Regions from separate parts of the Homo sapiens genome. Here all the other regions are linked to region 1. The links come from fine-mapping of genetic effects on gene expression. A gene starts in region 1. Each other region holds a variant in brackets. All regions are shown on one strand. Distances are between the middles of the regions.

The links. PIP is the estimated chance that this variant, and not a neighbour inherited with it, causes the effect.
Region 2: its variant is fine-mapped to the expression of CFD in spleen (GTEx, PIP above 0.99).
Region 3: its variant is fine-mapped to the expression of CFD in whole blood (INTERVAL, PIP above 0.99).

What each region holds. Positions count from the first base shown.
Region 1 is chr19:855,288-863,461 of GRCh38, forward strand. It overlaps CFD (complement factor D), which reads left to right and starts at 4,377. Exons shown (of 5, transcript NM_001928.4): 1 at 4,377-4,457; 2 at 5,330-5,486; 3 at 5,574-5,718; 4 at 6,412-6,669; 5 at 7,805-8,174. The coding sequence starts at 4,403. The coding sequence ends at 7,951. ELANE (elastase, neutrophil expressed) reads left to right here. Exons shown (of 5, transcript NM_001972.4): 4 at 277-507; 5 at 671-956. The coding sequence ends at 877.
Region 2 is chr19:434,949-443,122 of GRCh38, forward strand. SHC2 (SHC adaptor protein 2) reads right to left here. Exons shown (of 13, transcript NM_012435.3): 2 at 5,914-5,984; 3 at 4,022-4,082; 4 at 3,770-3,889; 5 at 1,682-1,735; 6 at 1,432-1,483; 7 at 1,217-1,343. Among named protein-coding and RNA genes, the nearest start is that of SHC2, 22 kb to the right of the region's middle. RefSeq lists an enhancer at 1,295-1,796. The variant C/T (reference allele first, on the strand shown) is at 4,445.
Region 3 is chr19:875,830-883,976 of GRCh38, forward strand. MED16 (mediator complex subunit 16) reads right to left here. Exons shown (of 16, transcript NM_005481.3): 7 at 5,730-5,885; 8 at 4,108-4,319; 9 at 1,145-1,351. Among named protein-coding and RNA genes, the nearest start is that of MED16, 13 kb to the right of the region's middle. The variant G/A (reference allele first, on the strand shown) is at 4,252.

The sequences.
Region 1 (8,174 bases):
GCTGTAGTTTTTTTGTTAACTGAGCACCTACTGCTTCCTGCACTCAAGCCACATCCAGGGACAACCTCCAACGCCCTGAGCCTTGGTGACGGCTCCCACTCTACAGATGGGGAAACCGAGGCTTGCCTTGGGGAGCAGAGTGTGGGGTGGGTATCCTGCCCTGCAGGATCCCAGAACCACAGTGGAACCTGAGATGGGGAAACTGAGGCCCGGAGAGGGGAGGGTCATCATCACTGCCCCGTGTGACGCGCTGACGATCTGTCCCCACCGCCACAGCTCAACGGGTCGGCCACCATCAACGCCAACGTGCAGGTGGCCCAGCTGCCGGCTCAGGGACGCCGCCTGGGCAACGGGGTGCAGTGCCTGGCCATGGGCTGGGGCCTTCTGGGCAGGAACCGTGGGATCGCCAGCGTCCTGCAGGAGCTCAACGTGACGGTGGTGACGTCCCTCTGCCGTCGCAGCAACGTCTGCACTCTCGTGAGGGGCCGGCAGGCCGGCGTCTGTTTCGTACGTGCCCTGGGTGTCCCTCTGCTCCCCACCCGCTCCCAGCCCGGACTGCAGCAACAGGCACCGTGGCTAGACCCTAGGAGGGACTTCCCAACCCTGACAGGCGGCGGGCAGGTGGGCAGGGCCTCGCAGTCCAGCTTCCCCACCTTGTCTGCCTCCACAGGGGGACTCCGGCAGCCCCTTGGTCTGCAACGGGCTAATCCACGGAATTGCCTCCTTCGTCCGGGGAGGCTGCGCCTCAGGGCTCTACCCCGATGCCTTTGCCCCGGTGGCACAGTTTGTAAACTGGATCGACTCTATCATCCAACGCTCCGAGGACAACCCCTGTCCCCACCCCCGGGACCCGGACCCGGCCAGCAGGACCCACTGAGAAGGGCTGCCCGGGTCACCTCAGCTGCCCACACCCACACTCTCCAGCATCTGGCACAATAAACATTCTCTGTTTTGTAGAATGTGTTTGATGCTCCTTGGCTGTGTGATTGGGTGTTGAAAATGGTCAGTAGGTCGGGCGTGGTGGCTCACACCTGTAATCCCAGCACTTTGGGAGGTTGAGGCAGGCGGATCACTTGAGCTCAGGAGTTCAAGACCAGCCTGGGCAACATGGCAAAACCCCCGCTCCATTAAAAAAAAATAAATAAATAAAATAAAATAAAATAAAATGGTCCAAGCCTGGCCCAGTGGCTTACGCCTGCAATCCCAGCACTTTGGGAGGCCGAGGCTGGCAGATCACCTGAGGTCGGGAGTTCAAGACTAGTCTGCCAACGTGGTGAAACCCCATCTCTACTATAAATACAAAAAAAATTAGCTTGGCGTCGTGGCGCGTGGGAGGCTGAGGCAGGAGAATCGCTTGAACCTGCGAGGCGAAGGCTGTAGTGAGCCGAGATTACGCCACTGCACTCCAGCCTGGGCAACACAGAGAGACTCCGTCTCAAAAAAAAAAAAAAAAAAAAAAAATACCGGTGCGGTGGCTCGTGCCTGTAATCCCAGCTCTTTGGGAGGCCCAGGCAGGCGGATCATCTGAGGTCTAAAGTTCGAGACCAGCCTGACCAACATGGAGAAACCCCATATCTACTAAAAATACAAAATTAGCCGGGCGTGGTGGTGCATGCCTGTAATCCCAGCTACTCGGGAAGCCTGAGGCAGGAGAATCACCTGAATTCTGGAAGGTGGAGGTTGCAGTGAGCCAAGATCGCTCCATTGCACTCCAGCCTGGGCAACAAGAGCGAAACTCCATCTCAAAAATAAATAAATAAATAAATAAATAAATAAATAAATAAATAAATAAATATAAATAATAATGATAATAATAATAATAAACAACAAACTAGAATCCAGAGTCTCTTGGGCATCTCTGGAGTAAGCCACCACCAGGGGGCAGCACAGCCAGGGCAATGGAGCAGAAGTGACTTCCCCACATTGTGTTTTTTTCTTTTTTGTTTTTAGATGGAGTCTCGCTCTGTCGCCCAGGCTGGAGTGCAGTGGCGCGATCTCGGCTCACTGCAAGCTCCGCCTCCCGGGTTCACGCCATTCTCCTGCCTCAGCCTCCCGAGTAGCTGGGACTACAGGCGCCCGCCACCACGCCCGGCTCATTTTTTGTATTTTTAGTAGAGACGGGGTTTCACCGTGTTAGCCAGGATGGTCTCGATCTCCTGAACTCGTGATCCGCCCGCCTTGACCTCCCAAAGTGCTGGGATTACAGGCGTAGCCACCACGCCCAGCCCTGTTGTTATATCATTTTCTATTCTCTGTGCGTATGAAATAATCCACAGGGGGCCAGGCATGGTGGCTCATGCCTGTAATCCCAGCACTTTGGGAGGCCGAGGTGGGCGGATCACCTGAGGTCAGAGGTTCGAGACCAGCCTGGCCAACATGGCAAAACCCTGTCTCTACTAAAAATACAAAAAGTTAGCCCAGTGTGGTTGCTCATGCGTGTAATCCCAGCTACTCGGGAAGCTGAGGCAGTAGAATCGCTTGAACCCGGGAGGTGGAGGTCGCAGTGAGCCGAGATTGTGCCACTGCACTCCAGCCTGGACGACAGAGCAAGACTCTGTCGCAAAAAAAAAAAAAAAGCAAGAAAGAAAGAAAAAAAGAAGGAAAGAGAAAGAAAGAAAGAAAAAGAAAGGGAAAGAAAGAGAAAAACAGAGAAAGGAAGGAAGGAAATGAGGCTAGGCGTGGTGGCTCACACCTGTAATCTCAGCACTTTGGGAGGCCGAGGCAGGCGGATCACGAGGTCGGGAGATCGAGACCATCCTGGCTAACACGGTGAAACCCATCTCTACTAAAAATACAAAAAATTATCCGGGCGTGGTGGCGGACGCCTGTAGTCCCAGCTACTCCGGAGGCTGAGGCAGGAGAATGGTGTGAACCCGGGAGGCGGAGCTTGCAGTGAGCTGAGATCGCGCCACTGCACTCCAGCCTGGGCGACAGAGCGAGACTCCGTCTCAAAAAAAAAAAAAAAAAGGAAAGAAAAGAAAGAAATGATCCATGGTGAAGAGAAAAGCCGGGGGAACCTCGTGTGCTGCTCCCCCTGGGGACAATGTCTGAGGTCCTCCCCACAAGGTATCCCCATCCTTCTGGTCCCCGCACCATGGATTAATGCAACGTGAATCCCGCTGGCCCCTGTGGGGCAGATGTGAAAAATGGAGCTACACCATGAGCAGGCCTGCAGTCCCAGCACTTCTGGAGGCTGAGGTGGGAGGATCACTTGAGCCCCGGAGGTCGAGGAGGCTGCAGTGAGCTATGATTGCACCGCTGCACTCGAGCCTGGATGAAAGAGCAAGACCCTGTCTGTAATAAAACAAAAACAACACACACAAATCCCCACCTCACAAAAGGCCCTATGGCCCAGATTCTGAGAAGTATTTTATTTTAATTTTTTTGTAGAGATGGGGTCTCGCCGTCTTCCCCAAGCTGGCCTTGAATTCCTGGGCTCAAGAGATGCTCCTATCTGGGTCTCTCAATGTGCCGGGATGGTAGGTGGGAGCCACTGTGCCCGGCCAGCCCTGACTCTGTTCATCAGAACCTGCCCTCAGTGAACAGTTTGGGAGGGGGCGTGTGATCCAGGCTCCACCAACCCAAGGCACCCTTGAGACTTGGCTGGAGTGAGGAAGAATTTTAGGAGGGGCCCACTGAGCCACTGGGTTGAGTGTGGGGTCCCTGGAAACACACCAGGGGAGGCTGGTGAGGAAAGAAGCCATCAGAGAAGAAAGGAGAAGCCAGAAGCAGACACTGGACATTGTTCAGGCACCTGGATCAAGCCACACCTGAAGGCGGACATCCCTGAACTTTCCATATAACTTTCATGATTCAGGCTCCACCCAGTTTGTCTGGGTTTTCCTGTCCCTTGTAGCCAGTCTTCCCAGCTGCCTCTGCCTTGGCCTTTCCAACTTTCTATTCGTCAGGGTGTCAAGCCCCAGAGGCCACAGGGACAGAGACAAAGGTGTCAAGTGACCTTCCTACCCCCAACAGACCTTCTCTCTAATATAGAGGAGGAAAAGAAGGGAGGGTAGCAGGACAAGAAAGTGGGTTGTTTACACGCTGTGGCCTCCAGCTAGGATTGTGAAACACCCTGGGGGACTCTGGGTGTGGTGAAGTTGGGGCCGGGGTGGGTGCAGCCCCCCTCTCTGCCTCCTGCCCATCTGAGGGACTGCCCCCCACCAGGGCCAGCAGGCTGTCAGGCTCACAGAGGCCCGAGGGTCTCCCAGCGACTTGTCGACTCTGGTGTGAGTCTGGCAGGAGGTAACCCAGTCCCGGGGAGGGCGGAGGCTGGGCGGGCGAGTTCCCCTTTCCCCAGCTGGGCCGCTGCCCACCCGGGGAGCGGCCCGCCCCCTCCACCCTCATAAAAGCACCCCCAGGGCCCTGCCTGGGTCAGTGTCTCAGCCACAGCGGCTTCACCATGCACAGCTGGGAGCGCCTGGCAGTTCTGGTCCTCCTAGGAGCGGCCGCCTGCGGTGAGGAGGCCTGGGCCTGGGGTGAGGGACAGGGCTGTGTAGGGGCGTGGTGCTCCCTTCCGTCACACGGACGGTCCTCCAGCCCCTCCAGGTGGGCAGGAAGGGGGTGTCTCTCCTCACTAATGGAAGGCTCTGAACGCTGAAAAATTCTAGAAAATTCAGATTGGAAATCGGAACTTTCTGGAGTCAGCTTTTCTTGCAGACAGAGTCTGAACGTCTGCGTGGAAAACTTCATCTGCGTGGCTGACTGGGCTGGCCCAGGCACTGGCTGGGTCAGCCCCATTTCTCTTATGTCCAACTGGAAGGCACTGCGCCCAGGGTAGGGCGCTGGGATCTGCCCCCGGTCCCCAGCCCACTGTGGGTTCTGTACTCTGGGGCATTCCCGCCCGAGGGTATCTGAGTTTGCAACGCTGAGGGGCCCCAAGACGGAAACGGGATTCTTTTTTTTCTTTCTTTTTTTTTTTGATAGGGAGTCTCGCTCTGTCGTCCAGGCTGGAGTGCAGTGGTGCGATCTCGGCTCACTGCAAACTCCGACTCCCGGGTTCAAGCGATTCTCCTGCCTCAGCCTTCCGAATAGCTGAGATTATAGGCCACGCCGACTAAATTTTGTATTTTTTTTTAAAGTAGAGACGGGGTTTCACCATATTGGCCAGGCTGGTCTTGAACTCCTGACCTCATGATCTGCACCCCCCCCTCCCCCCCCGCCCCCGCGCGGCTTCACAAAGTGCTGGGATTACAGGCGTGAGCCACCGCGCCCAGAGATGGGATTCTTGCGGGGAGCGGCCTGGGGGGTGAGAGCTGGGATCCCGTCAGGCAGCCTCGCCCGGGGGAGGAGTCCACCCCGCGGCCCTCACGCGCCCGCCCACCCACAGCGGCGCCGCCCCGTGGTCGGATCCTGGGCGGCAGAGAGGCCGAGGCGCACGCGCGGCCCTACATGGCGTCGGTGCAGCTGAACGGCGCGCACCTGTGCGGCGGCGTCCTGGTGGCGGAGCAGTGGGTGCTGAGCGCGGCGCACTGCCTGGAGGACGCGTGAGTGCCCGCGCCGCGCGGGGGAAGAGCCCGGGTGCGGTGGGGGGAGTCGGCTGGCACCGACCGCGGACTCCGTCCGGTCCCCAGGGCCGACGGGAAGGTGCAGGTTCTCCTGGGCGCGCACTCCCTGTCGCAGCCGGAGCCCTCCAAGCGCCTGTACGACGTGCTCCGCGCAGTGCCCCACCCGGACAGCCAGCCCGACACCATCGACCACGACCTCCTGCTGCTACAGGTCGGCCCCGTGTAGCGCAGTCCCTCCTGCGGCGCTGGGATCCCCGGCCCACCCTCACTCCACCCCGCCTACACCGCGCCCCGGGTCCAGCCTCGACCTCTCCTGCTGCATGGGGACCCCGCCCCACAACCCCCACACCCTCACCCCGGGTCTAGCCTCGACCTCTCTTGCTGCGCTCGGAGCCCCCCCACCCTCTGCACCCTCACCCCGGGTCCAGCCTCGAACTCTCCTGCTGCATGGGGACCCCGCCCCACAACCCCCACACCCTCACCCCGGGTCTAGCCTCGACCTCTCTTGCTGCGCTCGGAGCCCCCCCACCCCCTGCACCCTCACCCCGGGTCCAGCCTCGACCTCTCCTGCTGCATGGGGACCCCGCCCTACAACCCCCGCACCCTCACCCCGGGTCTAGCCTCGACCTCTGCGGCTGCACTGGGAGCCCCCCACCCCCCGCTCCCCCTGCATCCCCATCCCGGTTCCAGCCTCGACCTTTGCAGCTGCACTGGTGAGCCTCGCACCCACCCCATCCCCACCTGCACCCCCACCCAGGGTCTAGCCTAAATCTCTCCTGCTGCACTGAGACCCACGCCCCTGCCCTGATGCCCACCTCCCCCGTCCCGTCTCCCCGAGCCTAGCGGCATTCTCCCCAGCCTCGCACCCCCGCACCCCAACCCTGACGTCCGCCTCCACCCTCAGCTGTCGGAGAAGGCCACACTGGGCCCTGCTGTGCGCCCCCTGCCCTGGCAGCGCGTGGACCGCGACGTGGCACCGGGAACTCTCTGCGACGTGGCCGGCTGGGGCATAGTCAACCACGCGGGCCGCCGCCCGGACAGCCTGCAGCACGTGCTCTTGCCAGTGCTGGACCGCGCCACCTGCAACCGGCGCACGCACCACGACGGCGCCATCACCGAGCGCTTGATGTGCGCGGAGAGCAATCGCCGGGACAGCTGCAAGGTGAGCCTTCAGGCCTGGGAGGAGACGCGGGGCCTGCAGGCCCCGGGAAGGGCCTGCAGAGGGAGCGCGAAGCGGGGGGCAAGTAGGAACAGGGCCCAGGGAAGGGGCGGGGCGCGTAGGGGGCGGGAACTGGAAGATGGGCGGAGCATGAGGGTGGCCCGTGGGCGGGGCCTGTATGAGGGGGCGGGGCATGTGGGTAGGGTGGGGCCTTGGGGGCGAGGCCTGGAGAAGGTACGGGGCCTCTGGAGAGGGTGGGGCTGAAGAAGGGTCAGGGCGGGCAGAAAGGGCAGGAACGGGTGGGATGTGGAAGGACCTGTGGGTTAGGGTGGGAATAGGGGGCGGGGCTCGAGGAGGGGGCGGAGTCCAGTAATAGCGGGACTGCAAGGGGGCGAGGCCAGGAAGAGGGTTGGGGCATGAGGGGCAGGGCATGGAGGAAGGGGCGGTACCTGTGGGGAGGGTGGGGCTGGAGAAGGGTCAGGGCGGGCAAAAGGGCAGGTGGCAGAGAAAGGGTGGGAGGTATAGGGGGCGGGCACGTGGAGGAAGGGGCGGGGCATGGGGACGGGGCGGGGCAGGTGGAAGGGGCGGGAACCTCTGAAGGGGCAGGGCTGGTGCGGAGCGGGATCCCTGCTGTGGCAGGGAAGAGAAGGGGTCCTGAGCAGGGCAGAGGTTTAAGACCAGCCGAGGCTTGCATGGTAGCCGGGGCCAAGATTGGGTGGGGCTTAAGGGAGGGGCGTGGCCTGAGGTGAGTGGGGACTGAGCAGAGCAGGTGGCCACTGAGACGCGTTAGGGCAGAAGTGGGATCCACGGCAAGTCAAAGCTTGGAAGAGCAGGAATGAGGTGTGGGACCCCCATACTGGAAAGGGCTTGGAGCGGGGTGGGGTCGGGGGAACACGTGGTGAGGTTGAGGCCAGAGGGGGTGTGGCCAGGAGCTGGGGGCGGGCCTAGAGGGGCGTGGCTTGTGGTTGTGGCCTAGGCGATAGGCGTGGCGCGGGGCTATTGACTAGTGAAGACCAAATTAACACGGGAGGGATGAGCGAGCATTGTGGGGCGGGAGCGGCAGCCAGGTGAGGGGGTCTAACACGTGAGGCCGGGGTGGGCGCGGGCCGCCCCTCACGGCCCCGTCCTGTTCCGGCAGGGTGACTCCGGGGGCCCGCTGGTGTGCGGGGGCGTGCTCGAGGGCGTGGTCACCTCGGGCTCGCGCGTTTGCGGCAACCGCAAGAAGCCCGGGATCTACACCCGCGTGGCGAGCTATGCGGCCTGGATCGACAGCGTCCTGGCCTAGGGTGCCGGGGCCTGAAGGTCAGGGTCACCCAAGCAACAAAGTCCCGAGCAATGAAGTCATCCACTCCTGCATCTGGTTGGTCTTTATTGAGCACCTACTATATGCAGAAGGGGAGGCCGAGGTGGGAGGATCATTGGATCTCAGGAGTTCGAGATCAGCATGGGCCACGTAGCGCGACTCCATCTCTACAAATAAATAAAAAATTAGCTGGGCAATTGGCGGG
Region 2 (8,174 bases), 420 kb before region 1:
GAAATATCTGAGTTCGAATCCCAGCCCCCCACCTGTCACTGAGGGTTCCTACCGGGAAACGCTTCTAGAGCCAGTGACCAGGCCCACTACTTCCTCATCTATAAAATGGAATGTTGCACACATTTCCGAGCTGTAGCACAAAAGGCAGGTCGTTGGCAAACCCAGTCTCCACTCCTTTCTGCCCACCTCCGGCCCCGCCCGGCAGCAGAGGGCATGAGCCAAGTTTATACCCAGAACCAGGACATCACCGGTCAGGGTGGCAACTCTCTGGGATCAAAGCGCCCCCGCCCTCTGGCCCCGATGGCACTGGCAGGAATTGATCCTGCAGGTGCTCCTCAGCAAGCACGGCCCCGAGAGCCAGAGGGGTGCACCCCACCTGGCCCACAGTCGCTGCTGGGATAAATTATGAAGCAGCCTACGGAAGGCAGAGGCAGCTCTGGAGGCAGGCGAGGAGCCCGTCTCAGCTTCGGAGCGTGCTGAGCAACGTGCATCAAGCACGCTGTCCCCGTGCACAAAGGGGTGAGTGTGAGCAGGCGTGCGATGCCGCCTCCCTCGTGACCAGCAGGCTGGGAGCTCATGCACCTGCACCTGCCCTCCCACCATTGGAGGAAGCTGACTTTCTAATGATGAATAGAGACTTAAATAGCTCCTTCTCCAAGGCCAGCTGGCAAACCCCAGCCCAGGGCCAAATCCAGCTCACCGCCTAGATCTGTGTGGCCCACGAGCTAAGAATGGGCTTTCAATCTTTAAATTATCAAAGTTAAGTGTTTGAGAAAACATCTAGAGAATCATATTTTGCAACACGTGGCATTCACACTTCAATGTCTATAAAAAACGTGTTACCAGCACACAGACACGTCCCCCCCTTTACACATGTTCTGCGGTGAGACGGAGGCCGTTTTCTGCCCATTGCGGGAGCCGGCCGCGCGTCTGGAGGAGGGATATTGGTTGTAGCAGCAGGGCTGACAGCCTCAGGCACACCGGGGAGTCAGCTTGCTTAGTCCTCCCCAATCCTGGGGGGCAGGCGGGGATGCGTTTACTCGGGTGTTAACAGCCGAGGAAACAGGATCCTCTGGCTGAGCCATATTCTCACGGGACAGGGAGGGAGGGACAAGGGCAGGACGGAGGCTGAGGCCTGCAGGAGGTGGAGCAGGCTCTGCACCTGGGCAGGTCACTGGGGGTGTCCCCAGGGCACGGGGGAGGCAGCTCTGGTTACCTTTCTGGGGGCAGCGCCACCTTGGGCGGGCTGTGCAGGTACTGCTTGAAGCGCAGCTCGAAAGCTTGGCCCACGGTGCTGATGATGCTCTGTGCCAGGCCCTCACAGCACTCCAGGATGTGGCAGGCTGCGGGCACGTTGGTCATGCAGCCTCCGAGCCACACGGCCGTGCCCCCCAGCCACAGGACCCCCACCGGCCTCCCCGGGGGCCTCACCTCTCTGGTTGATGGGGTCCTTGGCGACGTAGGCCACGTAATCCGTCATGTCCTGGGGGCGGGGAGGGGCCAGCTGGACCTGCCTGGGCCCCCCACCGGGATTCCCAGCTGCCCACCCCAGCAATGCAGAGAGATGGGGCAGTGGATGTGGGCACAGGGTACGTTAGGCGGGCTCTGGGGAAGGATGAGAGGGTCTCGCGGCCGGAGGGGGGCGGCAGGGCTGCAGGTCCACCCCCATCCCTGGCCTCACCGTGTCTCCGCCTGACGCGAAGGAGATGGACGGCATGTGGTGGTTGGCGATGACCTGTGGCGGCAGGAGGCACACGCGGTCATGGGGGCCCCGCTTCGAGGGCAGGGGGCCCGGCAGATGGACCAGGACCACAGCGAAGAGTGGGGCAGGGGCAGGGATGTGGGGATGGAGACGTCTCCTGGACAGGCACCCACTGCAGCCGGGTCCTGGGTCAGCCTGGACGACCGAGGCTGGGATGTGGAGTCCCCAGCAAGGAAGGGACTAGGGCCCTAAGGGATGTGTGGGGTCCGCAGGAGGTCACACGGGAATGTGTGTGAGAGGACAAACCTCCCCCACTGTAACACTTCACACATGTACCTGCCCAGACGCTCACACACACACACCCCAAGCCCCACACACATGCACACACACACACACACCCGAAGCAGCCACGGGAGGGACGGCCCCACACTCCTGACTCCCTTGTCCACGTGCAAGGGCACCTGTGAGTGCATTTGCATGCTTATCTGCATGCTCATTTGTATGCTTGTTTGCCTACTGATCTGCATGCTCGTTTGCATGCTCATCTACTTGCTCGTTTGCGTGGTCATCTGCGTGCTCGTTTGCGAGCTCATCTGCGTGCTCGTTTGCGTGCTCGTCTGCGTGCTCGTCTGTGTGCTCATCTGCGTGCTCGTCTGTGTGCTCATCTGCATGCTCATCTGCGTGCTTGTTTGCATGCTCATCTGTGTGCTTGTTTGTGTGCTCGTCTGCGTGCTTGTTTGCATGCTCATTTGCATGGTCCTGCTTCATTTGCTTCCCGTCACTCAAATCCCTCTAGGCCCCAGTAAGCCCCCGATACCAGCCACGTCCTGAGTCCTCCCTACAGAACATCCACTTCTCAGCCCCCATAGGGACCCTCGAGGCTCTCCCCTTGCCAACCCCGGCCCAGCCAGGAGGGTCTGCTTGGAGCCTCAGTATCCTGTCCATATAGTGGTCAGGGGTCCATGCCTCGCAGGGTGGGGGCAGAGATGGAAATTGCGTGGAAATGGCCCTCAGTCACCCCCCCGCCAGCTCCATCCTTCTCTAGCCTCCTCCCTGGAGCCCCAGCTGCCCCTCACCGCCACCTGCTGCCACCACACCAGCTCAGAGATGCTGTCTCACCCCAAACTCCTCACGATGATCCATGCTAACTTCTCCGACAAGGCGATGCCTCCTCTTTCAGCCACACCTGAGATTCCCCTCCTCACCACCTCCCAGAGCCCTCCAGGAAGTCTCTTCTAGCACCCAGAGCCCAGCACATGCTCAGGACACCCCTCACCTGGCCTCACAATGCTTCCTAAAATCTGTTATTTCCTCTATTTCTGCAATTATAGTTTTTTGTTTTTTGGTTTTTTGAGACAGAGTCTCACTCTGTTGCCCAGGCTGGAGTGCAGTAGTGCAATCTTGGCTCACTGCAACCTCCACTCCCAGGTTCAAGCGATTCTCCTGCCTCAGCCTCCCAAGTAGCTGGGATTACAGGCGCCCACCACCACACCCGGCTAATCTTTGTATTTTTTGTAGAGTCAGCCATGTTGGCCAGGCTGGTCTCGAACTCCTGACCTCAAGTGATCTGCCCACCCCTCAGCCTCCCAAAGTGCTGGGGTTACAGGCGTGAGCCACTGAGCCCGGCCTCACAGTGCTGGGGTTACAGGCGTGAGCAACCAAGCCCGAGCCTGGTCTGCAATTATACTTTTGTTGTTTGTTTCCACTTGAGGACTGATAGCCAGGGTTTATCCCCGCCCCTCCCCAGGCACTGTGGATGTTGGGACGGACCACTCTCTGGGGTGGGGCGTCCTGGCCCCTGCAGGGTGCTGAGCAGCGTCCCTGCCCCCACCCACTCCATGCCAGGAGCGCCCCTGTATCAGGACGGCTCGCCCAGGTGGGAGCCCCTGAGCTGAGCCCCGTGAGGGCAGTGGCTGCACCCCCAGCTCCTGCTCAGCGGGGCCTCGGCTCGTCTTTCTGGATAAACGCCACCTGCTGCCCGCCCCCAGCACCCCACCTGGCTTTGCCTCCTAGGACTCCTGGCCCCTCTGGGGGTCTGGGGACGCCAGGCGAAGAGGGCAGACCCACCTGGCGCGTGGCAGGCACGGAGAGGCTGAGGCCATCAGTGGAGATGTGGATGGAGATGCTCATGCCGGCAAAGCGAAGGTTGCTCTTGCCCAGGACGGACGCCAGGGCCTTGTTGGGGGCCTGAGTTGGGGGCGGAGCACAGCGAGGGCGGCTGTGGGTGGGGGCTGTCGAGGGGCTCCCAGGATGGCCGCAGCGTCCCCACAGCCCCCGACTGCCCCACCAGCCCCACGAGAGACCACAAGCCTCACTCACCTTTTTCTTCCAGGATCCCCGGACGCCAGGCACGGCCTCATGGAGCCGGTTGATGGCTTCCCTGGGGTTGGGAGGAGGGGGCTTAGAGAGTGTGGTGGGGGTGGCCATGGAGGGAGCTGGGGAGGAAGGGGTCAGAGAGGGCGGGGGTCTGGGGAGGGGGCAGGAGCTCAGAGAAGGGCGAGAGAGAGGGGAGAGGAAGGCAGAGAGGGAGGGGTGGGAGAGGATCAGGGGGCCTAAAGTGGGCAGGGAGGGGGCTGGGGAACCTGGGGGAGGAGTGCCCCACAGGACAGGTGCAGCTTGGGCACCAGCCCACTCCACGTGCGTCCTTGCATCCGGCAGAGGCCCGGCCCCCAGCTCTGGCCCCTCTACCACCCTCTTTCCCAGGGACCAGTGTGTCCCTGGCCTCGGCCCACAAGGAAGGCT[C/T]GGCATCAGATGTGGGGGTTGGAGCAGCGAGCAGGAGGCCCTGAGCCTGACGCGGGGTCCGTGTCGAGATCCTGTCTGCAGCCTGAGTGGTGGCAGGAGCTGACCCCAAACAAGAGCGCCTCAGACCACTGGTCCCCAGGAGAGGTTAGAAGTCTACAGGGTCCTGAAGGGGCCCCGGAAATGTCGGCGTCACGTGGAGAAACCAGATCCCCCACCCAGGGCATGTGGGAATTTTCACAGCACGGCCACTGTGGAAAACAGCCTGGGGGCTCCTCAAAAGGTTAAAAATTGGCCAGATGCAGCGGCTCCTGCCTGTCATCCTAGCACTGTGGGCCTGACACAAACAAATGCATGCAGGCGCGGCGGCCCCCACCTGTCATCCCAACACTTGGGGAGGCTGAGACGGGCGGATCACCTGAGGTCAGGGGTTCGAGACCGGTCTGACCAACATGGAGAAACCCCGTCTCTACTAAAAACATAAAAACTAGCTGGGTGTGGTGGTGGGCGCCTGTAGTCCCAGCTACTGGGGAGGCTGAGGCAAGAGAAATGCTTGAACCCAGGAGACAGAGGTTGCAGTGAGCCGACACGGTGTCACTGCACTCCAGCCTGGGCAACAGAGTGAGACTCCATCTCAAAAAAAAAAAAAAAAAAGGAGCAAGGCTCTGACCCAGGCCACAGCGCGGACACACCTCGGGAACGCCATGCTCAGTGAGAGACGCCAGACACACGAGGCCACGCAGCGTGTGATCCCATTGCTATGAAATGTCCAGGACAGGCCGATCCACAGAGACAGGGAGGGGATGCGTGGGTGCCGGGGCTGGGGAGGGGACGGGGAGTGGCTGTGATGGGGACGGGGTGTTTTGATGGGGTAATGAGAATGTTCGGAACTAGACAGTGGTGATCGTGTGACTCTGTGAAGAGCCTAAAGTCTCAAACTGTACATTATATCTCACATACGCACGTGTAAACTGTCTCACATGGTTTTTTTAAGTCTATACGAATGGAATCAACCAGTTTTCACAGAAAAAAAGGGTGTCGCTCTCTTCCCTGCTTAAGCCCTGGCCATATCCACAGCCCCTGTGATTGCTTTCCAGACACCGCATAGCATCCTGAGGTCACCGTGTGGAAAACAGAGCAGGGACACGGAGACGCCACTGGGCCCCGGTCCCAGAGGGAACCCGCCAGGCCCTGCACCCCACGCCGTGCGGGGACTTGCCCAGCACCCTGTGAGCGACCGGCGTGTTCTTTCCATCTTAGAGGATCGAGGTCTGCAGGGCACGGTGACCGACACCTGGCGTGGGGACAGGGCGGAGACGTGGCGTGAAGTGGGAGGGAGGTGGGGGGCACCGAGGCTGCGTCCTGGGACCCCAGCGCGGCTGTCGGAGAGCCCATCGCTGCCGCCCTCCAGTGCTGCCGCCCTCCAGTGCGTCACTCAGCCCTACGCGGCCAGGGCAGGGTTGGAGGCTCACCTGGTCACCTGCGTGCGCGTGTTAAAGTCCAGGGAGCGCATAGAGCGGAGAACCTCGATGCAGCCCATGTACTGAGGGGAGAGAACAGGTGTCAGATGCCATCGGAACCCCCGCAGTGGAGCCACGTCCCTTTTCCCAGCAGCCCTTCGCCGCCTCCACCACCCCTGGGGTCGAGCCCTTTCCTCTGTCCCTGGTGGCTCTGGGGCCGTCGTGCCTCCCCCACCTCAAGGCCCAGCCTTGACACTGTCCTGCGAGCCGCCCCCTCTGACTCCAGGCATGTTTTTCTGTGTTGCTGTTTCTCAGGAGCCTGGTGGTTCCCCCAGACGCTCTATGCTGCTTGTTCATTTAACCGTCTTGCCCTCGTCGGTCTCTTTCTGTTCCACCAGCACCGAAGCCGAGGAGCGTGGGGATGGTGCGATCCTGAGCACTTCCCTATCTCCAGCGCCCAGTTCAGGGTCTGGCAAACAGTGGGGCAGACGTCCAGGGCAGCCACAGATGCACACACTGCTGGCCTCGCCCTCCACAGGAAGTTTGCGGGCTTCTGGCCCAGACAGCTGTTTCCATGAAAAGGGAATTCACCATCTCAATGACTGATAATACTGAGGGACGAGAGGGGCAGAGGCGTCCCACCGAGTCCCTGACCTGCTTCAGTGCCGTAAAGGGTGGGGGAACAGGGCCAGGAGGCGAAGGCCACAGCGTCCTTCCAACGTTGGCCCTTGCTGGAGGGAGGGTAAGGGGCACAGCCCACGTCATCTCTATGAAATGTCCTACAGAGGCAGCAAGAGCATGTGTGGGTGCCAGGAGCCGGGGAATGAAGGCTGACACGAACAGGTTTCCTACTGGGGTCATGAGAAATTCTGGAATTAGACAGAAGGGGTGGTGGCACGATATTATGAATGTACGAAATGCTACTGAACTGTGAAAAATGCAACATGCAAAATGATGAATAACGTTATGTGAAGTCCACCTCAGTTTCTTTAAATGATCAACACGCAAACACTTTGACCCTGCAGCTCCATTTTTAGGACTTTACCCCACAGATACATCAGCCTGAGGGCTTCTGAGGTGTGTACAGGTCACTGTGTGGGCCGGCCCAGGCTCTGCCCCTCTCCACGGCTCCATGTACCTGGAGCAGGGAGAGCAAGGAGCAGAGACAGATGTGAGAATGCAGGCAGGAAGCAGAGGCCACAGGACCTGGGCTGTGATGACGGGCAGGGGCTCATCCTGGGCCAGCTGGGGAGCCAGGGAGCACTTAAGCAGGGCATGGACTAAGCAGCCTCACCTCCTGTTGAATGGATGCATGATGGGTGGATGGACTGACAGAAAGATGGCAGGTGGATGGATGAATGAAAGAATGGATGGAAGATGAATAGATGGGTGGGTGAGTGGGTGAACGGATGGATGATGGGTGAGTGGATGATGGATGGATGGGTAGATGGATGGACAGGCAGATGGACAATGAATGGATGGGTGGGTGGATGGATGGAGGGTGGAAGGATGGATGGATGGGTGGGTGGGTAGATGAGTAGATGAGTGGATGGGTGGATGGATGGATGGACAGATGGATGGATGGGCGGGTGGATGGATGGATGGATGAATGGGTGGGTGGATGGGTGGGTGGATGGGTGGATGGATGGATGGACGGATGGATGGATGGATGGGTGGGTGGATGGATGGGTGGGTGGGTGGATGGGTGGGTGGGTGGACGGATGGCTGGATGGATGGGTGGGTGGATGGACGGGTGGGTGGGTGGGTGGATGAGTGAATGGGTGGATGGATGGATGGGTGGATGGATGGGTGGGTGGATGAGTGGATGGGTGGATGGGTGGGTGGACGGGTGGACGGATGGCTGGATGGATGGGTGGGTGGATGGACGGGTGGGTGGGTGGGTGGATGAGTGGATGGGTGGATGGATGGATGGATGGGTGGATGGATGGGTGGGTGGATGAGTGGATGGGTGGATGGGTGGGTGGATGGGTGGACGGGTGGACGGATGGATGGGTGGGTGGATAGATGAGTGGATGGGTGGGTGGATGAATGGATGGATGGACGGGTGGGTGGATGGGTGGATGGATGGGTGGGTGAATGGATGGATGGACGGGTGGGTGGATGGGTGGATGGATGGATGCATGGGTGGGTGGATGGATGGATGAATGGGTGGGTGGGTGGATGAATGGATGGATGGACGGGTGGGTGGATGAGTGGATGGGTGGGTGGATGGATGGAGGGTGGATGGATGGACAGATGGGTGGTTGGATGGG
Region 3 (8,147 bases), 21 kb after region 1:
GACCCTGGTCTAGAGAGAATGAATGAATGAGCTGAAGCATTTTGGGAGGCTGAGGCTGGAGGATTCCTGGAGGCTGGGAGTTGGAGAGCCTGTGCAACGTAGGACACCCCATCTCTACAAAAAATAGAAACAACTAAAAACAAAAATGAAACGCTTGGCACACAGCGACGGCCCAAGGAGGGAGAGGGCGAGGTCTCGCCATCACTAGCGCTGTCACTGGCTACGGATCCCAGCCACGCTGGGGTTTAGCCTCGCAGCCCCCGCCTGGGTCTCACGCGTTTCTCGGCAGGCTGTGCCGTGAATGGGATTTTTTTTTTCCCATTTTATCTTCGTATTGGTTTCTGATGGCACAGAGGAAAACAAGTGAAGCTCAGAGGGCTGGTCCCACGTGCAGCTGCCGGCTGAGCTCGTTAGATCTGAGGTCCTTCGAGGACACTCTGGGATTGCAGGCACATAACCACACCACTGCAAGGGACCCTTCTGGCACGTGGGCCTCCGTATCCGCTCCCTCCTCTCCTTCCGACGGGCGGGTCTCTGTGTGTTCATCTTCTGACCGTGTTTGCTGAGGCCTCACACCACAGGGCCACCGGGTGTGCATCCTGGTACCCATCACATTCTGAGAGGATGGCTTAGAAAGATACCTCCAGACTGGGAACACTGGAGAGGGGAGCCGTCCAGGGGGGATCAGGCCTTACCTGTGGGGCTTAACGTGTTACAGAAGAAACTTCCCAGGTAAGGAAGGAAACTGCTTCTCTGAGGTGCAGCTTTCCTGGACGGGCCTCTGGGAGCACACCCCACACGCAGCCTCACCTGCCACAGGCTACCTGCCCCTCTTGCCCTCCGCCTGCCATAGAGCCCCCAACCTGCCGCAGGGAAACCCCTCCAGCTGCCACAACCCCCACATCTGCCGTGGGGACCTCTACAACTGCTGCAGAGACCTCCTCCACCCTCCAAGGGAACTCCCTCCCTGCTGCTGGCACTTTACTGACCACGGGGCCCCTGCCTGCCACAGGGACAGCCCCACCTGGCACGGGACCACCTGCCACGGGGCCCCCACCTGCCACGGGGCCCCACCTGCCACGGGGCCCCCACCTGCCACAGGGCCCCCACCTGCCACGGGGCCCCACCTGCCACGGGCCCCCACCTGCTGCAGGGCAGCGGTCTGGCGCGTGTACTCCTCGTGCAGCTTCTCCACCAGGCTCTGTACCATACTGGGCTGCACGTGCAGCAGGATGTCCCACCAGTCGTAGCCGGTCACCATGCAGTACTCCAGCAGGAAGAGCAGGTGCCGCAGCGCCAGCCCCACCTCCAGCGGGTGGCCCATGGAAGGTGAGAGGCGGAGCACGCTCAGCTGCCAGAGACAGAGCCCAAGGAGAGCCCGGTGAGATGGGGCTGCGCCCTCAGCCGGGAGAGGAATGGGGCCCTGGGGCTGCGGCACGTGTGTGGATCTGTGTGCGCGCACGCCCGTGTGTGGGCCTGTGTGCGCGCATGTGTCTGTAGCGTCTGTACCTTTCTGTCAGGGTCATGCACAATGCCTCTGGGAACAGGGAAGGAAACCTCCCTGAGCCCCGACTGCACTGGATGCCGAGCCAGGCTTACACTCGTCTGCTTTACCTGAGGAGTCTACCCCGTGAAAGGCGGTCCTCTCAACAGCTCCTAGTTACGAAGCTCCTAATACGTGCTGTGAGCCACCCCACTGACCTCGCTCAACAAGACGAACCCATCACACAGACAAGGCAGCGCAGGCAGGGGCTGGCGAGGGGCTTGCACCTGTGGTCCCTTCCCCCGGGGGCGCCTCCCTCTGGCACCCTCCCAGCCCCAGCCCCAGCCCCAGACCCACGTGCCCCAGCAGCTCGCCTTCCCCTGGTTGTCAATGCCCACCAGCCCCTGCCCCACGTGCCCCAGCAGCTCACCTTCCCCTGGTTGTCAATGCCCACCAGCCCCAGCCCCAGCCCCAGCCCCAGCCCCACGTGCCCCAGCAGCTCGCCTTCCCGTGGTTGTCAATGCCCACCAAGCCCAGCCCCACATGCCCCAGCAGCTCGCCTTCCCCTGGTTGTCAATGCCCACCAGCCCCAGCCCCACGTGCCCCAGCAGCTCACCTTCCCGTGGTTGTCAATGCCCACCAGCCCCAGCCCCAGCCCCAGCCCCACGTGCCCCAGCAGCTCACCTTTCCGTGGTTGTCAACGCCCACCAGCCCCAGCCCCAGCCCCACGTGCCCCAGCAGCTCGCCTTCCCCTGGCTGTCAATGCCCCCCAGCCCCAGCCCCAGCGCCACGTGCCCCAGCAACTCACCTTCCCCTGGTTGTCAATGCTCAGCAGCTCACCTTCCCGTGGTTGTCAATGCCCACCGAGCCCAGCCCCACGTGCCCCAGCAGCTCACCTTCCCCTGGTTGTCAATGCCCACCAGCCCCAGCCCCAGCCCCAGCCCCACGGGCCCCAGCAGCTCGCCTTCCCCTGGTTGTCAATGCCCACCAGCCCCAGCCCCACGTGCCCCAGCAGCTCACCTTCCCGTGGTTGTCAATGCCCACCAGCCCCAGCCCCAGCCCCAGCCCCACGTGCCCCAGCAGCTCACCTTTCCCTGGTTGTCAATGTCCACCAGCCCCAGCCCCGGCCCCGGCCCCGGCCCCACGTGCCCCAGCAGCTCACCTTCCCCTGGCTGTCAATGCCCACCAGCCCCAGCCCCACGTGCCCCAGCAGCTCACCTTCCCGTGGTTGTCAATGCCCACCAGCCCCAGCCCCAGCCCCACATGCCCCAGCAGCTCACCTTCCCGTGGTTGTCAACGCCCACCAGCCACAACCCCAGCCCCACGTGCCCCAGCAGCTCACCTTCCCCTGGTTGTCAATGCCCAACAGCCCCAACCCCACGTGCCCCAGCAGCTCGCCTTCCCCTGGTTGTCAATCCCCACCAGGGCCAGCCCCACGTGCCCCAGCAGCTCCCCTTCCCCTGGTTGTCAATGCCCACCAGCCCCAGCCCCACGTGCCCCAGCAGCTCCCCTTCCCCTGGTTGTCAATGCCCACCAGCCCCAGCCCCAGCCCCAGCCCCACGTGCCCCAGCAGCTCACCTTTCCCTGGTTGTCAATGTCCACCAGCCCCGGCCCCGGCCCCGGCCCCGGCCCCGGCCGCAGCTCCACGTGCCCCAGCAGCTCACCTTCCCCTGGCTATCAATGCCCACCAGCCCCAGCCCCAGCCCCACATGTCCCAGCAGCTCACCTTCCCCCGGTTGTCAATGCCCACCAGCCCCAGCCCCAGCCCCACGTGCCCCAGCAGCTCGCCTTCCCCTGGTTGTCAATACCCCCCAGCCCCAGCCCCAGCCCCAGCCCCACGTGCCCCAGCAGCTCGCCTTCCCCTGGTTGTCAATGCCCAGCAGCTCACCTTCCCATGGTTGTCAATGCCCACCAAGCCGAGCCCCACATGCCCCAGCAGCTCGCCTTCCTCTGGTTGTCAATGCCCAGCAGCTCACCTTCCCATGGTTGTCAATGCCCACCAAGCCCAGCCCCACGTGCCCCAGCAGCTCACCTTCCCCTGGTTGTCAATGCCCACCAGCCCCAGCCGCACATGCCCCAGCAGCTCACCTTTCCCTGGTTGTCAATGCCCACCAACCCCAGCCCCACGTGCCCCAGCAGCTCGCCTTCCCCTGGTTGTCAATGCCCACCAGCCCCAGCCCCACGTGCCCCAGCAGCTCGCCTTTCCCTGGTTGTCAATGCCTACCAGGGCCACGCCCCAGCAGCTCGCCTTCCCCTGGTTGTCAATGCCCAGCAGCTCACCTTCCCGTGGTTGTCAATGCCCCCCAAGCCCAGCCCCACGTGCCCCAGCAGCTCACGTTCCCCTGGTTGTCAATGCCCACCAGCCCCAGCCCCACGTGCCCCAGCAGCTCGCCTTCCCCTGGTTGTCAATGCCCAGCAGCTCGCCTTCCCCTGGTTGTCAATGCCCACCAGCCCCAGCCCCACGTGCCCCAGCAGCTCGCCTTCCCCTGGCTGTCAATCCCCACCAGGGCCAGCCCCACGTGCCCCAGCAGCTCACCTTCCCCTGGTTGTCAATGCCCAGCAGCTCGCCTTCCCCTGGTTGTCAATGCCCACCAGCCCCGGCCCCACGTGCCCCAGCAGCTCACCTTCCCGTGGCTGTCAATCCCCACCAGGGCCAGTGACGTCCACGATAGCTGCATAGCCTTTAAGTGGACGGCGGGGCCCGCGGTGCGGGGGCGCTTCATGGCCGGCTCATCCACAGGCCTCGGGGCCGCGGAGCTGTAGAAGAC[G/A]GCCATGGTCTGCAGTGAGAGCCGGTGCACGATGTGGACGCTGCCGTCGTGGAAGGCCAGGGCCAGCCCTGTGGGGCACAGGCACTGCTTAGACATGGGCAGGGCCCAGGACACGCCCGCCGGGGGAGGGGCCTCCTGCTCTGCAGGGTGTGGAGAGCCGGGGCTGCCCATCCAGGGGGTCAGCCCCCGCCAATCGGCATCCAGCGCCCGTGCCCCCAGCCACTCTTTCTTTAGTTACACAGTCCCTGAGCACCAGGGGAGCAGGAGCCAGCAGCCTTGGCCACACTGCTCCCAGCCCCTCCCCGCCCCTCCCAGCTGGGCCCATGTCCTGGCTGACACGCCCCTCAAGGAGCGCAGGGGAGGGGGGCACTACAGGTGGGGGACCAAGGGTTGGGGCTCCTGGCGTCCCAAAGAGAGGCATCTTAGGGTGGTGGGCTGGGGCTGTCACTCACACTGGGGTCTGCCATTGTACGAGGGCCGGGGGGAGGTGGGGTCCAGAGCCCAAAGCTCATGGAAAAGAGAATATGAAAGGAGTCCCTGCAGTAGAGAGGCTGCAAAGCCGGGCGCGGTGGCTCACGCCTGTAATCCTAGCACTTTGGGAGGCTGAGGCGGGCAGATTGCCTGAGCTCAGGGGTTCGAGACCAGCCTGGGCAACACCGGTGAAACCCCGTCTCTACTAAAATACAAAAAATTAGCCGGGCGTGGCAGCACGCGCCTGTAGTCCCAGCTACTCGGGAGGCTGAGGCAGGAAGGAGAATCGCTTGAACCCAGGAGGCGGAGGTTGCAGTGAGCCGAGATCACACCACTGCACTCCAGCCTGGGCAACAGAATGAGACTCCAACTCAAAAAAAAAAAGAAAAAAAAAAATAGAGCCTGGAAAATGGAGCATAAACCAAGGGTTTTGGAGCAGGGAACTGCATCCCCTCAACCTCTCTGCAGGCTCTGAGGAACAGCCCTGAGCCCCGAGCGGGTTTTGATAAATGCTCTTTCCAGGGAACCAGGGAAGAACGGGAGCTGGGGGAAGAAAGGGCCTGAGCTAGGGCCGACTTGTCCACATTTTACAGCTGAGCAAATAGGGTAGGCACTGAAGAGTGTGCAGACTCACTCATGGGCACGGATGCCACGGTTTGAGCTCAGGACCACATTATGGCTGCTGCAGCACAGAGAGGACACATGCCGCCTACCCAGGAAGGAGTTCCACCAAGTTCCCCAGGCTCCCTTGTTGATTTGCAATGACTCTTTACATATTAAAGAACACTGGATCTGTCTGCCAGCCTCACAGATCCCGAAAGATGAGATCTGCCTCCTAATTGGGAACCCATCAGAACCCAGAAGGCTGAGCTCCTACAGCCCCATGGCCTGTGCTCAGAGCCCACGTCCTCTGGTGTGAGCTCCCACGACCCCGTGGCCTGTGCTCAGGGCCCAACTCCCCTGGTGTGAACTGAGGCCCCGCGTGGCTGCCGCTGGCTCCACCGTACCGAGGCCAGGGTAGAACTGTGTGTCGCTGGCCACCTTGAGGTCGGTGTTGGTGAGCGAGATGGGCAGCTTGGGCAGCGCCACGGCCGACACACGGTCCAGATCGTTGGTGGCCGATAGGATCCGCCATTTGAGAATTGTGGGCTGTTTGTCGCCAACTGAAAAATCAGGGGCAGGAAAACAGGAAGGCAATGGAGTAAAGACAGGCTGAGACAGCCGCAGGAGTCCAGCATGGCCTGGTGTGCAACCTGCCCAGGGCCCTTCCCAGGTCTCATGCCGCCCTGCTCCCATGCCCAGAAGACCAGGCCCGGCCAATCCGAGCGCTTCGTGCCTCGGCCACTCATTGGTTCCAGGATGGGCACGTGACCCAAGGTGGGCCCTGGGATTTCATGGAAACCTGTGGGCCGGCACCATCTCACCCCCGATGGGGCAGACAGTGGGGAGACGGCGCCACCTCAGACCTGCAGCCATGCAAACCCTAACACTCGCTCGGCCTTAGCCAGCTCAGCCGGGATTCCCATCCCTCCTCATCTACAATTCCAATAAAGCCATGCGGGATGGTCGCACCCACAGATCCGCTGCCTGACAGCCCCTGCGTGAAGACGCAGCTCCTCCCAACAGGGCAGAGACTTCTGGGAATCTCAGGCCAAGCCTTAGCAAATGTGACATGGCCGGGCACAGCAGCTCACATCTGCCACCCCAAGACTTTGGGAAGCCAACGCCAGAGGATGGCTTGAGTCCAGGAGTTCAAGACCAGCCTGGACAACACAGCAAGACCCCATTCTCTACAAAAAAAACACAGTAAACATTAGCTGTGTGTGGTGGTGATGCACGCCTGCACACGCCTGTAGTCCCAGCTACTCAGGAGGCTGAGGTAGGATTGCTCGAGCCCAGGAAGATGAGGCTGCAGTGAGCCAAGATCACGCCACTGCACTCCAGCCTGGGCAACACAGCAAGAGCCTAGCTCAAAAACAAAAAACAAAAACAGTGGCCCAGAGAGCACGTGTGGGGGGTCCTGCTGTGGCTGCATGTGGGACACGGAGGGCAGCTGGAGCCGGCCTGCTGGAGCATGTGCGGCCAGTGGACAGGCCACGCCACCTCGGCTGCTAACCGCAGACACGTGGGAACCAGGAGAGCGCAGCTGAGGCAGCCACAGAAACAGAAACAGTGCAGGGCTGCTGGCCTGAGCTGCTCAGTTTGGGGCTGGCTTGTTACTCGGCTGAAGCTGACTACCACGCAGCTGCTCTGTGCCACCCGCATCATGAGGTCTCTGCCCCGGACGGGCCATCACGGTCACAGAGCCTTGACCTCCTGCAAACCCGTATAGGGGTCCTGTGAGCAGCATTCCCTGGGGGGAAACAGGCCCAGAGAGTGGCTGAGACGCCCAGAGGGCACACAGTGGTCAGGGGTGGCTGGCCCTCATGGAATTGAGCCTCTCATAGGAAAGACAGGAAACTCAACGCCCCAGCGCCGGGGGAGGCAGCTGCCATGACGACCACACCCCCAGCTAGTGGCCAGGGTACCCTCACAGCACGATTTACATCCCCTCCTCCATCCAACTGACGGCTGCGGTCAGCATTCCTAAATGAGGGGGGACTTGAGGCAGGGAGAAGCTAAGCTGCTAAGTGGGGATGTGGGGCAGTGGGTGAAGAGCTGGGCATGGTAGGAACCGAAGCCTGGCATGGTGGGCACGTGGGGCGGTGCGTGAAGAGCTGGGCATGGCGGGGACCGAAGCCTGGCATGGTGGGCACGTGGGGCGGTGGGTGAAGAGCTGGGCATGGCGGGGACCGAAGCCTGGCACGGTGGGCACGTGGGGTGGTGGGTGAAGAGCTGGGCATGGCGGGGACCGAAGCCTGGCACGGTGGGCACGTGGGGCGGTGCGTGAAGAGCTGGGCATGGCGGGGACCAAAGCCTGGCATGGTGGGCACGTGGGGCGGTAGGGGGAGAGATGGGGGAGAGATGGGTGCGGTGGGGACTGTCCCAGTGACCCCCAGCTGCCAGGGATGTGAGACCTGAGAAAGGCTGTGGCATGTGTGTGAGACGTGGCTCTCGGGCGGGTAACAGCTGGGCCAGCAGGTGAGGACGGCTGCAGGAGACGAGGAGGAGTGTCGGAGCCCAGGACTGCCCAGTGGCTTGGCTGTGGGCAGATGGTAGACACAGACGTGCCCAGCGGGGGCACCGGGCAGTGAAGGTGCAGGTCTGTGCAGCCACACGGGGTGGCGCCAGGTGCTGCTGCAGGAGCCAGCGCAGCCCAAACTGCCTGGTGACTCACCACGAGGCCCAGGGGAAGGAATGAGGCCCAACAAGGCCCTGGGGACCGGGCGAAGGAACGAGCCCTGGGAGAAGGAATGGCAGCAGCCCTCTTCACCTGCCTGGTGACTCACTACAAGCCCTGGGGGAAGGAATGGCAGTGGCCCTCT